4 linked regions of the Homo sapiens genome follow. The protein of the gene in region 1 purifies or fractionates together with the protein of each later gene. This does not show direct contact. Each region holds a gene or a part of one and is shown in the gene's direction. Other genes may lie near its edges. The genes, in order: ATRN, STAM, STAM2 and SPPL2B.

Evidence for each region.
Region 2: the proteins of ATRN (region 1) and STAM fractionate together in Homo sapiens (co-fractionation; one large-scale study listed by BioGRID). This does not show direct contact.
Region 3: the proteins of ATRN (region 1) and STAM2 fractionate together in Homo sapiens (co-fractionation; one large-scale study listed by BioGRID). This does not show direct contact.
Region 4: the proteins of ATRN (region 1) and SPPL2B purify together in Homo sapiens (co-immunoprecipitation; one large-scale study listed by IntAct). This does not show direct contact.

Annotation. Positions count from the first base shown.
Region 1 is NC_000020.11:3,575,514-3,579,082, forward strand, and holds part of ATRN (attractin isoform 1 preproprotein), read left to right. Parts: intron 1-313; coding exon 314-435; intron 436-1,345; coding exon 1,346-1,484; intron 1,485-3,068; coding exon 3,069-3,259; intron 3,260-3,569. UniProt on the Homo sapiens protein: Involved in the initial immune cell clustering during inflammatory response and may regulate chemotactic activity of chemokines. May play a role in melanocortin signaling pathways that regulate energy homeostasis and hair color.
Region 2 is NC_000010.11:17,706,651-17,710,219, forward strand, and holds part of STAM (signal transducing adapter molecule 1), read left to right. Parts: intron 1-2,125; coding exon 2,126-2,301; intron 2,302-3,569. UniProt on the Homo sapiens protein: Involved in intracellular signal transduction mediated by cytokines and growth factors. Upon IL-2 and GM-CSL stimulation, it plays a role in signaling leading to DNA synthesis and MYC induction. May also play a role in T-cell development.
Region 3 is NC_000002.12:152,123,711-152,127,279, reverse strand, and holds part of STAM2 (signal transducing adapter molecule 2), read left to right. Parts: intron 1-900; coding exon 901-1,054; intron 1,055-3,344; coding exon 3,345-3,514; intron 3,515-3,569.
Region 4 is NC_000019.10:2,349,148-2,352,716, forward strand, and holds part of SPPL2B (signal peptide peptidase-like 2B isoform 2 precursor), read left to right. Parts: intron 1-2,286; coding exon 2,287-2,447; coding exon of another isoform or gene 2,448-2,468; exon of another isoform or gene 2,469-2,510; intron 2,511-3,569. UniProt on the Homo sapiens protein: Intramembrane-cleaving aspartic protease (I-CLiP) that cleaves type II membrane signal peptides in the hydrophobic plane of the membrane. Functions in ITM2B and TNF processing.

The DNA of each region.
Region 1 (3,569 bases):
TGATTTTTTTTTTCTTGGAAAGAAAAGTATTCAAAGAGCCAGAATTTACTTTCATTATATCTTACAGTTGTTAAATTAACCTATCCTTGTTTTCACTTTCTGTGTACTTCTTTCTTTGGGGTACAAAACAGTGTTTCTTTAGATTGTCTATTTCTAAATATTATTTTAACCAGAACATACCAAATATATTTTCCTGCCAGTTTCATTCTTCATTTTACTTCTTAACCATTGTTACGATTTTTTTTTTAACTTCGGTCTCAGATTTTGCTCAATTGAAGTTGTCCCAGTTCATGAGATTTTGTTTTCTTTGCAGCTCTTGACCATGACAGATGTGACCAGCACACAGATTGTTACAGCTGCACAGCCAACACCAATGACTGCCACTGGTGCAATGACCATTGTGTCCCCAGGAACCACAGCTGCTCAGAAGGCCAGGTCAGAGGCTGTTTCTTAAAGATTTCAGAAAAATCCCAATTTGTCATAGGTTTAGCTTTTATAGTGTATATGGTATAAATAATGGCCCAGAGTTACTTTTCAAATGGGTTTCTATTTGGATTTTATTATCCCTGAGGTTTTCCTTTAGGAAGAGATGTTCTGTATATTTCAAGGGTCCTACTAGCCCTGGGAATTTGTGTATTGTGTTTTAGAAGAAGGTAGGACTGTTGTCCCTGGGCATGGCTGTGACTAAGCACTGGATCCTTGGTTTGAGGCATCTGATAGTGACCTCACTTTACCAGTGCCAGGTTTTGATAAAGTTAGGGTTTGAGAGTGAGTCAGGTGTACAGCGGCCCATATTGAACTGTGGAAATGACAGACTTTGCAAAATCTCCTTGTTTTATATCTTGGTTTGGCATAATCTCACTGCTCATCATATATAGATTTTTAAATTTAAGTTATAAGATGACCCAGGCTTTTATAGTTTTTGACAGCTTACAAGACTTTTTTTTTTGTCAGTCTCATACAGTTCATAAAATAGAAAACTTTCAGACTTTTGAAGTGAGCATTTGAAAAGCACCAAGTTCAACATTCCCATTTTACAGATGAGCAGGTTGAGGCATGGTGTTTAAAAGAGTGGGCTGCTTCCTTGCCAGTTAAAAGCATGTCCTTGAGCAGAACATTCCATTGCAGTGTTCCCCACTGCAGAGCTACTGCAACTTATCTATCTATCTGTCTGTCTGTCTGTCTATCTATCTATCTATCTATCTATCTATCTATCTATCTGTCTATCTATTTATTTGCAGTTTGCTTCCTCAATTAGATTTTGTTGTCTATAATATCCTGTTGGTCCTCACCATAAGTTCTCTCTGTGGATACAAAAGAAAAGCTTTTGTCCACTGTGTTCTAGATCTCCATTTTTAGGTATGAGAATTGCCCCAAGGATAACCCCATGTACTACTGTAACAAGAAGACCAGCTGCAGGAGCTGTGCCCTGGACCAGAACTGCCAGTGGGAGCCCCGGAATCAGGAGTGCATTGCCCTGCCCGGTAGGCCTTGCAGGGTCATCTTGGTGTGTGTGGGTCCATTACTTCAGCCTGCTTCCCCCAACACTGTGCAGCCTAAGTTGAACCTAGCAGAGGGGAAGAGCTAATTCTGTCCATTCATCCCCCACACGAGTATTATGGGCTTTTTTGTTTTTAACTAAAATACAGTTCTTAAGTATTTGTTCCTACTGTCCTTTGAAATAAAGTGAAACATCCTTTGCTGCTCTGTAGAATTGAGTGACAGCTTGGTTCTGTATCACTGAGCCTGCTCCTTGTCTCTTTCCCATCCACCTTTGATAACCTGGGACTAGACCATGATGTCTCAGCAGTCAGTCTGCTGAGCACTTTATGGAGAGTACTTCTTATTAACCACTGGGATTTAATTGTTGGCACCTGCTAATGGGCCTTCTCTGAGAAGGAGAGGATAGATACTTCTGTCAGCAGCACCTTTTAGGGGTGATCTCCAGCCCTGAAAACCTCAATATATCCTGCTTCTGAGGTTCAGGATGATGAACTCAGGGCCTGAGACCAGCCAGCCATGTGATATATTTGGACCAGGGTGGTCCAGAAAGGGGAACTTCCTTGTCTGTGCACAACATCTGAGCTTGTTCAGGGAAGTTGGTTTGGACCAGGCCCTTTTTGAATGTCCCTTGGAAGTTTTTGATTCAGCTTGCAGAGTGGGACTCTTTTCTATATCTCAGTGTGTCTCAAATTTTAAGGTACAGGAAAAGACCTGGGAATCTTGCGAAAGGCATATTCTGGTGCAAGTGTGGGGTGGGGCCTAGAGTGTGCATTTTATCTAGTCGACTGCTACACTGTGAGGAGCAAGTCTTTGTCTGTTCTTAAATGATCTCTTTCCCATGGTACCTTTCTTTTATCTCAGTGACTGTTACTGTTAATGAACATTGTTGATGTCTCCAAAGTACTTTGGTTCTGGTGAAGTTGCTTTGTTCTTTCATTGTCTTCCAGGAAGCATTCATAGCTTCTGTGCAGTACCTTGTGTGGGTTCAGGATGATCACAGGTAGCAGATTACAAGCTTGTCTTGTATGCTATAGCCATATCACTTGGGTTGTTTCTCAAGAAGGACCTTCTCACCTTGCTTTTGGGATGCTTTGTACACTTGATTGTACCTTCCACCTGATGATATGAAAACAGTGCAGCTTTTGGAGACTATAGATTTGTTAATTCCTTGATTCATTTCCATTCTTGCAGTTTTTACCCCAGCCCTCCAATATGCATATTCATTTGTCTGCTCTTCACTTAGGATTTTAGTTTTCTAATTGTTCTTCAGAAGGAAGTGTACCAGTCTAATATTGGCACCAAACTGGTGTTTTCATCTAAGACATAGGATAAGTGACCTCAGAATATGCTTTTTAGGATCCGGGAGATATCACCAGTAAACATTTTAAAATTCTTGTATTCTGCATTTGGTCCTTAATAATGTGTCAGAGGCTCCCACATCCTAATGAAGTACCTAGAATTTAAATTAGAAAGGCCATTTCGGTATTCAGTAATTTGAACTCATAATACAGTAGTTTTGTCTGATTTCTAAAATTCTTTTCTTTCTCTTTTCCCCTTAATGAAAGAAAATATCTGTGGCATTGGCTGGCATTTGGTTGGAAACTCATGTTTGAAAATTACTACTGCCAAGGAGAATTATGACAATGCTAAATTGTTCTGTAGGAACCACAATGCCCTTTTGGCTTCTCTTACAACCCAGAAGAAGGTAGAATTTGTCCTTAAGCAGCTGCGAATAATGCAGTCATCTCAGAGCATGGTGAGTTAAAATCCTCAAAACTTAAGTTTCTGGTTATCCACCTTTCTACCAAGGGCATGACTGCAGCTTGCATGTGGAAGGCTGTGGATATGTGTGACGTGCTTGGCAAGAAGGGGAGTGCTGGTGAACGCAGCCTGAGGGACTGTGGGTTTGTGCTGTCAGAGTCTCTTCCTCTTAAAATTTTTAATACTTTGTATATATAAGATCTATGAATAATTATATGGGGGATGAATTGTAACATGTATATGTGTACATAATCTGGTGACATCAGTAGATTATTTCATACCTGTTTTACCTCTGGATTCTGCTA
Region 2 (3,569 bases), on another chromosome or scaffold:
TTCCAGGTGTGAGCCATCGCGCCCGGCCGAGGCCCATATTTTTAAAGCTTCGTATGTAATTATTTACTTAAGAACCTTAGTTCTTCATCAGGTTGTGTACACTCAATATGTATAGCCTTTTGCAGGTCAGACATATCTCAATAAAGTAGTTTCGTAAAAAACACAAAATGCTTTTAGAGCTAAGAAAACTCTCTTAAATATCTAATGAACTTCTAGTTATCCTTAAAAGGAAAACTTAAATGCAGTGAAAAAAAAATGAGGTAAAAACCTGTTTTTATTATTACAAACCAACAAAATATATTTCCATAATTTAAAAACTGCTTTAATCTGGAATTTTCCCTGCTTTACATGAGAATGCATGCAATGCAGTGTAGAGCCGTTTGCTTTCTTTTCACCCCAAGCAACTATTTCAAGGACCCCCTTTTCACAAACTCATCACGGTGAGGTGAGGTTATAGGGAATAACTAGCCAGATACTGGCCGGGTGCGGTGGCTCATACCTGTAATCCCAGCACGTTGGGAGGCCGAGGCGGGTGGATCACGAGGTCAGGAGATGGAGACCATCCTGGCTAACATGGTGAAACCCTGTCTCTGCTCAAAATACAAAAAATTTAGCCTGGCGTGGTGGTGGGTGCCTATAGTCCCAGCTACTTGGGAGGCTGAGGCAGGAGAATGGCATGAACCCGGGAGGCGGAGGTTGCAGTGAGCCGAGATCGTGCCATTGCACTCCAGCCTGGGCGACAGAGCAAGACTCCACCTCAAAAAATAATAATAATAATAATAATAAATAAAAACAAAACTAGCCAGATACTCCATTTTTTCCATGTAAAGTGGGCACGGACTGTGTTCAGATTAACGTTTAGCAGAATGAGGGGCCAGCACCCTGTAGATGAACAGCTAGGCCCAAGAAACTTGGGGCTAGAGGGCACCTGCTTTAGAGTCTTGATCACCAGTTTGAGACAAGGAAGCAAAAAACCTTCATGTTCAATTTTCGAAGAATGACAAAATAAAGTTAGGAGGACTGGTATAGCTGTGTTTATAATGAAGACCCTTTGGATCCCTGTGTGGGTCTGTCGTTTAACAGAAGTGCTAAATGGAAGGATCTAATGAATACTGCAGAAAATTAGGACATTATGTGTTTTAGACTTTGGGTAGTTAAGACTTCAATCTCTTTAGATTAAAAAAATGCATTTTGAAATACAGAAGTAGACAAATCCAGCCTGTTGCCTGTTTTTTTTTTTTTTAATAAACTTTTTTTTGAGACGGAGTCTTGCTTTGTCGCCCAGGCTGGAGTGCAGTGGCGCGATCTCAGCTCGCTGCCAGCTCCGCCTCCTGGGTTCAGGCCATTCTCCTGCCTCAGCCTCCCGAGTAGCTGGGACTGCAGGCGCCCGCCACCACGCCTGGCTAATTTTTTGTATTTTTAGTAGAGACGGGGTTTCACTGTGTTAGCCAGGATGGTCTCGATCTCCTGACCTCGTGATCTGCCTGCCTCGGCCTCCCAAAGTGCTGGGATTACAGGCATGAGCCACCATGCCTGGCGGCTTTAAATAAACTTTTATCAGAACACAGCCACTCTGATTTACTGACAGAGCCGAGTAGTTGTGTCAGAGACTACATGGTCCACAAAACTTAAAATATTTACGTCAGGCCCTTTACAAAAAAGTTTGCTGACCCCTGCTTTAGAAAGTTAGCTTGCTCTATTGTTCAATAAACTGCAGTTTAGGAAATGTGACTTGTATCCATTGCAGTCTATGGCTACAAAACAATGAGTTCAAATACACTTTCTAAATATCCTTTGGGATTCCTTAAAAAATACCAACATGCAGAATATTAAAATATATTTAATGTAAAGGGAGATTAGTATAAAGTTTCAGGATAAGTTTCTTTAATGCTTCAGTATGGAGATAACATGAGTTTAGCATATGTTTAACTAAAAATGAAAACCATCAACAGCCTATTTCATTGAAAAGCGTTTTTCAAAATGCCCGTTGACAGAAATAACTTTGAAAAAAGGATTCCAGAGTGGTGATTTTTCTTGTTTTTGTAACTGAATACCTCTACAGAGAAAGTTCAGTATGCTTATTAAAATTTTAGAATTGAATATGATTTCTCTTTAACCATCGCAGGTGTATGCAGGGCCTCCTCCAAGTGGTGCCTACCTGGTTGCAGGGAACGCGCAGATGAGCCACCTCCAGAGCTACAGTCTTCCCCCGGAGCAGCTGTCTTCTCTCAGCCAGGCAGTGGTCCCACCATCCGCAAACCCAGCCCTTCCTAGTCAGCAGACTCAGGCCGCTTACCCAAAGTAATTTTACTGTTGATTCTTGTTTGGAGTTAGTGCTGTTACAGCTGTTTAAGTGCCCCCAGTTATCTATAACTATAAAATCTGGCTAATAAATATCTGTGGTCAGCGTCATGCGGCCGCCCCATTTGTGCTAATGAGTGGTGGAGCCTCTGTGGTATTCCAGTACCAGCCAGCAAGCTGGTCCTCTGCTCCCGACTCGCTCAACTCATGTAATCTGGTTTCAGCCTTATATTTTTAATACTACTCTAACCATAAGTTTTTATTGTTGTTTTTATTTGCATCTATGATATTTGATAATGTCTTTAATGAAATTTATGTTTAGTGACTATAATTTGTCATTTTTCCACACATTTTGTATAAAATCTAAATTCCGTTATTTTAAAATATATAGTTCTGAGCTGTCTCTTTAAGACAAATATTTTCTTATTTTTGCCCTGTTTTGGAATTTAGTTTATATTATATCAAGGTACCCCATTTGAAACAAGAAGATAATAAGAAGGTAAGCACCCTTGTTTCTCAGGAGGCAGATGGCTGAATATGTGATGACAGAGGCCCATTTACTTTGCCATTTACTTACAGTGCTGTCTGTCATGTAGTTAAATGATTATTGTGTGTTTTTTCTGCTTTAATGGGACTCTGAGCTGAAATCTTTTCCTTGAAGCAAATAAAGGATAGGCTTTTAAGAGTTTACCAACGTGTATTCTAGAAGTTACGACATTCTAGCTGGCAACAGAAGTTTCTAGGTAGCACAGGCACAACTTCTAGAAACCTTTCCAGCAGTGTTAGGATTGCCCAGGAATGCTCCTGCACTGCCCTCTCTTGCACTACTCATCCTCAAAGAGTTACGTGTTAGAGATGCTTGGGGATTTTCAAGCATTATTCGGTTGTCAGATCTAGTATCCCGAAGTGACCTTAAGGGGGATGATGGCAAGGCCCACATGTCAGAAAACAGGGCATTCCCTAGTGGGTTCTGTATCTTAGAAAAAAGTGTTAAGTGTAGCTTGCACTCTTGCAGGATTTTTTTTTAAGTTGAAATCTGGTGGAAATGAATACCCTTCTGGAAAATAAACAGCTGTTCTTAGAGTAGCATGTTGCTTTACAACTAGATACAAAGGGGCTAGAAGGTAGGAATTGTTGAGAAGACACTAGGGTTCCTGACTTAATAGGACCCTGCAGCTATTTTAGTATTAGCCGGAACTGCCACTTTTCCCCTGCTAGTCCTCTGTTTGACTATGTCACATGCTGCTCTACCTTCCTTGTTACTAGAG
Region 3 (3,569 bases), on another chromosome or scaffold:
AGAGGATTGTGACTGCAAGTTGTCCATGTTCTTAGCATTTTGAACAAAGAATTGGACAAAATGCCCAGCAAAGCAAAGAAAGATGGAAGCAACAAAAGAACAAAAGCAGGGTTTTATTGAAAATGAAAGTACACCCCACAGTGTGGGAGTGGGCCTGAGCAGCAGCTCAAGGGCCAGGATACAGAATCTTCTTGGGTCCAAGTACCCCCTAGAAGTTTCCCATTGGCCTTTTCGTGCTCACCTCATGTAAATGAAGTGGAAGCTCACAATCAGTCTGATTGGTTGCAGAAAGCAGCCAACCAGAGGCTGAAATGAAGTTACAAAGGTAACACTGCTGTGCAAACATCTGATTGGTTGCAAAAAGCAACCAATCAGAGGCTAGGGTGAAGTTACAAAGTTATATTTCTTTGCAAATGAAGACTCCGCCCACAGTCAGTCTGATTGGTTGTGGACAGCAACCATTCAGAGGCTGAAGTTACAAAGTTGCAAATGGAGACTGGACCTGTAATCAGTCTGATTTTTTTCGGACACCCAATTTCCCATCTGCTGCACAGAAAACGTGGGGGGTTTGCAAAGGAAGTAGCCTCTGGTCCTTTTGTTACTTAGGTGTGGAAAGTTAGGGTTGGTTTTCCTTTCAATTTAGTTATAAGAAGTCAGCTTGAAAATCAGCCTTAGATTCCCTGCCTCCAGACCCTATTCTCCTGCCTCAATATCAGCCTAGCTATTACAAGGATTAAGCAGTTCTTCCTCTTAGTTTCCCTTTGTGAATATTCTTTCATTAAATATAAAAAAGCCTTTTAATATATTAATAGAAATTGTGCTAAATTAAAAAAATAATTTATATTACTAAATACATGCTAAAAACTAGAAGAGTATTATAATACTTTTCTTCTACATCAGGAAGCATTCAGAATTGTCTGAATTGAATGTTAAAGTCCTGGAAGCTCTGGAACTATATAACAAATTGGTGAATGAAGCACCAGTGTACTCAGTCTATTCAAAGCTCCACCCTCCAGCACATTACCCACCTGCATCATCTGGGGTTCCAATGCAGGTGAGCATGTTTTTTGAGAACATTTTCTAAATTATAAACAACTTTTAAAAGTAAAAGAAAATGTTTTATAGCATAGTATTAAGATTTCTTTTGTCTGTGAATAAAATTATAAAATTTATCTTTGATTGTTTCAGTAAATATTGGCTAAACAATTAACATTCACCAGAGCAAATTAGACAGATACTGATATTTCACAAATACATTTTAGTTCAGTTTTAACATGGATGAAAAGACCATTAAATATGTGAGGGTAGTTCTGGTTCTTCATATGCTTTTGTAAGTATAAAGCATAAATCTTTTATGTAAACATAAATCCTTTTTGTAAATATGGAGTATAAATCTTTTGATTTAGGACAATACCTGACATATCAGAAGTTCCCCAGGTGAGGTACTAACGCTTTCCTGCTGCTCAACAAGATTTAACATTTCTTTACAAATTTCCATAAAGATTTATTTGACTTACATGATTATTAACAGGCACAATGAACTTCTAGAGTATGCTTTATACTTCCTTTACTTAGCTGCATGACTTACATTGTTAAAAATCTGTGCATAGCAAAGATATGATACATGTCTAGGAGGTACAGACTCCGTAAGCCATCCATGAACATCCATAAGCCATCTTTTTCCAGTACTTTTCACCTTTTTTGTGTGCTTGCCATGTGAAGCGAATACTTACATTTGTCAGTATCCCCATTCGGAAGCGTTTTTTGAAATTTCAGCCAATTAGCCAATTGAATTCAGAATGAGCTTGGATGAGCAAAATTCATGTTAATTTATGAAAACTGGTATGTAAAGGTGCATGTGAAGGAGACACCAAGGAGAAAGGGTAGAATGTGGGTGCATAATTTAGATGACTTGACACAACATAATTGTTAAGTAAAAAAAGAATAGTCACTATGGTAACTGTCACGTCAGACAAGATACATTTATCAAATATGCCATGCCTTGATCTTTTTGAAAATTAGGAGGGTAGGAAAGATTTTTCTGGCTGCAAAAGACCTTTGGGATTTATTCAGTTTGCTTCTGTTTTCAGAGTTGTTCGCTGCTGCTGTGAAAGTGGAACAAAACAGCAGTGTCTGCATCATTGTATGATAAAACTTTATGTTTGCTTTTTTGTGTGTCTGTAAAGGGTTATTTGCCATTCTGTGTCAGGTTTTGGTGTTTAGTTGCATTCTACTTACTGCGTTTTGCCAAGCACAACTCATGTCTCTAAAAAGTTAACTTTCTGTTTGATTCCTCACGTAATCTGTACCTACACTGTTCACTCAAGAGCATTTGAAATATTCAAAAGTTTCTATTCTAATTTGACAAAAATATATCTCTACTAGAAGCAGTTGGGGTAACACATTAGTTATATTGTGTAGGCTACTCAGGAACCCTAAACTGCAGAAGACGCTGATTCTCACAGTCTCAGCCTATTGTCAGTAGATTGTTACATGTCTACTAAGGAGGTAATGTGATTGTACTTAATATAGCTTATTTGGCATTTCTAGCATTCTAAATTTTCAGATGAATGGTATTTACTTTAAAAATAGCTTAATTTAAAACTGGATTGATGATCATTATGGTATGATATGATATTAAATGTATGCATTGTTTTGATGCTATATTTAGTAGACAGGTGGTAGACCCTGTCCTTAAGGAGCTGTTGTCCTGAAAATAAGTAGGGCACATATAAATGTCCAAAGAGACCTAAACCATTTTTGCTGTTTCCTGAGGATACATGTCTTTTGCCCATAACTCTTCTTTACTTTTGTCCTGTTTGTCTTAAAGGTAGAGAATAAGGTAGACATTGCCAGGGAAGCCCTGGCACCCTTATACCATTTCTTTTTCAGCTTTTTCTCTCAAGTTTCTTTCTTAGGAAGGAGTTGGATGAGTCATCCAGGGATGAGGGTAAAGAAGGTTATCATTCTTATAGTGACTTTAAGTGATGGTGGGCTTCCCTTCAAGGGAGTGTATAGTTTTCTGTGGCTCTACAGCAAGACATCTTTACTGAGTAATAGGCAACCTGGATAGATTGCAATCCACTACTTAAAAGTACACCACCTGTCTTTCTCCCAGCTCTCTGTAAAAATAAAAGAACAGCCAAACAAATCAAATTTCCATAGATTTGGCACTGTGATTTGACAGCTCTCCACTTTTAGTTCTAAGATGGATAGATTGGTAGAATCAGATTGCTTCCCAAAGAAGTATAGTTTCTTTCCTTTAAGTCTTTTAACATTTTAAATATATTATTAGGCACATGTTTGGGAGATGAGTGAATCAACTTTTTCTTTCTGATTAATAGACATATCCAGTTCAATCACATGGTGGAAACTATATGGGTCAGAGCATTCACCAAGTAACTGTTGCCCAAAGCTATAGCCTAGGACCCGATCAAATTGGTCCACTGAGATCTCTGCCTCCAAATGTGAATTCCTCAGTGACAGCACAGCCTGCTCAAACTTCATATTTAAGGTAAGTTTTGGGAGCTGTGTTAATTTTATATGTGTTAATTTTCCTAGATTTTCAG
Region 4 (3,569 bases), on another chromosome or scaffold:
CTTGATTCCATTCTCTCCCTCCACACACACTCACGCGCTGTCATTCGCTTGATTCCGTTCTCTCTCTCCACACACACTCGTGTTCTCATTCGCCTGATTCCGTTCTCTCTCTCCACACACACTCGTGTTCTCATTCGCTTGATTCCGTTCTCTCTCCACACACACGCGCTCTCATTCGCTTGATTCCGTTCTCTCTCTCCACACACACTCGTGTTCTCATTCGCCTGATTCCGTTCTCTCTCTCCACACACACTCGTGTTCTCATTCGCTTGATTCCGTTCTCTCTCTCCACACACACGCGCTCTCATTCGCTTGATTCCGTTCTCTCTCTCCACACACACTCGTGTTCTCATTCGCCTGATTCCGTTCTCTCTCTCCACACACACTCGTGTTCTCATTCGCCTGATTCCGTTCTCTCTCTCCACACACACTCGTGTTCTCATTCGCTTGATTCCGTTCTCTCTCTCCACACACACGCGCTCTCATTCGCTTGATTCCGTTCTCTCTCTCCACACACACTCGTGTTCTCATTCGCCTGATTCCGTTCTCTCTCCACACACACTCGTGTTCTCATTCGCTTGATTCCGTTCTCTCTCTCCACACACATGCGCTCTCATTTGCTTGATTCCGTTCTCTCTCCACACACACTCACGCGCTCTCATTCGCTTGACTCTGTTCTCTCTCTCCACACACACTCACGCTCTCATTCGCTTGATTCCGTTCTCTCTCTCCACACACACTCGCGCCCTCATTCGCTTGATTCCATTCTCTCTCTCCACACACACTCACATGCTCTCATTTGCTTGATTCTGTTCTCTCTCTACACACACTCACGCGCTCTCATTTGCTTGATTCCGTTCTCTCCCTCGACACACACTCGCTCTCATTCGCTTGATTCCGTTCTCTCTCTCCACACACTCACGCGCTCTCATTCGCTTGACTCTGTTCTCTCTCTCCACACACACTCGCGCTCTCATTTGCTTGATTCCGTTCTCTCTCTCCACACACACTCACGCGCTCTCATTCGCTTGATTCCGTTCTCTCTCCACACACACTCGTGCTCTCATTGGCTTGATTCCGTTCTCTCTCCACACACACACTTGCGCTCTTATTCGCTTGATTCCGTTCTCTCTCTCCACACACTCACGCGCTGTCATTCGCTTGACTCCGTTCTCTCTCCACACACACACTCACGTGCTCTCATTCGCTTGATTCCGTTCTCTCTCTCCACACACACTCGCGTTCTCATTCGCTTGATTCCGTTCTCTCTCCACACACACACTCGCGCTCTCATTCGCTTGATTCCGTTCTCTCTCTCCACACACACTCACGCTTTCATTCGCTTGATTCCATTCTCTCTCTCTCCACACACACACTCACGCTCCCCCGTGTACTGCAGTTGGCCCTCACTAGCCATGGGTTCCTGCAGCTGTGGATTTCACTAGCTGTAGGTTGAAAATATTTGGGGAAAAGATTTGTGTTCTTATCTGTACTGAACACATGCAGATTTTTTGGGCCAGTTTTCCCGAAGCAATGCCATGCGACAGCCATTGCCTGCGGCGACATCACGTTTGCGTTTGTAGGAACCTATGGTGATTTATGGTTTGGCAGGACGCGGGTGGGTTCTAGGCAGACACTGCACCAGTTTACGTCAGGGACATGAGCAAGGGGGTCCTGGCAGCCCTCCCCTGCGGGTGCCAAGGGTGGCCATGTGTGCGTTTGTGTATTTACATGCACACGTATGTAAATCACAGGCTGCGTTCTCAGGGGACTGGGGGCACGGCCCCGGTGGGTGGACACCGTGCCCTTTGACCCCAAACATTTCACTGGGTGTCTCCTGAGAACATAGTTTATATGCCCACAGCTCAGTGTTCAAGGGTTTTCTGGTCAGGCACATGTGTCACCTTCGGCTGATTTTCTCAGAGGTTCATAGAAACTGCATCCCAGACACGTCTCGCAGCCCCCTCCGCTATCACGTCTGCCTCCCGCTGTCCTGCAGCTGCCCGGACCCTGCCCCTCCCTGTCCCTCTCCTTGCCCTGGCCCTTCCATGTCCTCGGTGACCCTGGCTCCGGTAGGGTCAGGGTGGGATTGTGGCCCAGGAGGTGCCGGAAGGATCCATGTACTTTGGGGAGCCTGTGGCCCTGCCGGCTGAACCCCCACTGTACCTCTCCCGTCCTCGCACACCCCTGCCCTCCACCAACCCCAGCCCGCTCACGTTCTTCCCAGGGAAATGGGTGGTGGCCCTGGCCTGCCTGGCTGAGGTGATGCCTCCTCTGTCCCCACAGCCTATGGCGTTGGCCTCCTTGTGACATTCGTGGCACTGGCCCTGATGCAGCGTGGCCAGCCCGCTCTCCTCTACCTGGTGCCCTGCACGCTGGTGACGAGCTGCGCTGTGGCGCTCTGGCGCCGGGAGCTGGGCGTGTTCTGGACGGGCAGCGGCTTTGCGGTGAATACCAGTTTGCTCTGACTGTGAGAAATACTCGCCTAGTGAGCCCTAACTAGAGTTAAAGTTGAGTGAGACCTCCAGCCACAGCCAGCCCTGCGGCCGCGACGGGGCTCAGGGTCCTGGTACCTTCTGCTTTGGGTGTCATGCGCGTGAGGCCCCGGTGGAAGGACGTGCGTGCAGCTCCTGTGCCGGGTGGGATGCGGGGGTGCCAGGTGGGGCCCGGGGGTGCCGGGTGGGACGCGGGGGTGCCGGGTGGGGCCCAGGGGTGCCGGGTGGGACGCGGGGGTGCCGGCTGGGACTCGGGGGTGCCATGTCCTTTCTAAAGTTGCTTCTCCCAAATAGTAGTGCCCCACCTGCGTGGGCATCGGGCATCCATCGCCTCTCCTGCCGAGAGCGAGGCGCCTGACTGGGGGTGGGGCCGCAGGGCCCTGGACGAGGGGAGCAGGCCTGCCCTGGCTGTGGAAGCCCTGTCCCCTGTCCCCCTTGGCAAGGCAGGGGGTGGTTGGCAAGGGTTAAACGTGAGATGCAGGGAGGGCTTACGCCACGTCGGTTCTGCTCTTGTGATTTTTTGTGAACAGGAGTGGGTGGGACCCCCCCTTCCAGTGTGCCGCTCAGGTGACTTCCTGGGTTCCCGGGACTCAGGCGCATTGCGCCCGAGAGCTGCCCCCGCCCCTCCGGGCAGCGCCTCTTGGAGTCCATGACCGCCCAGGGAGCAGCCCTGCGCCATAGGGCGATCCTCAGGCTGTTGGGCATGGGTGCAGCTCCTCCCATAGCTGATCTCCCTCTGGGGGAGATGCCGCGCTTCTCAGCGGTGCTGGCCGCGCATGGGGTCCTACGTCATGTTTTTGTGGAGGTTAAACCACACCCGTCCCTGCCGCACTGGTGTGATGCATTGGGTCGAGCTGTGGTTCCAGTGCCGAGCTGGGCTCATGGGTCCCACAGATGGGACCATGGCCTGAGACCAGGCCCCAGGGAGAAGTCTCCTGGGGCCAGCACCCCCACCCCAAAGGTCTCCCCATTCTGATGGGCATTTCAGAAGGTTCAGGAGAAGCCGGGGACCAGGCCCAGGGGCGAGAGACGGTAGTCCAGGCTTTTCTTTGGAGAGGCTTTGCACAGCTCCCA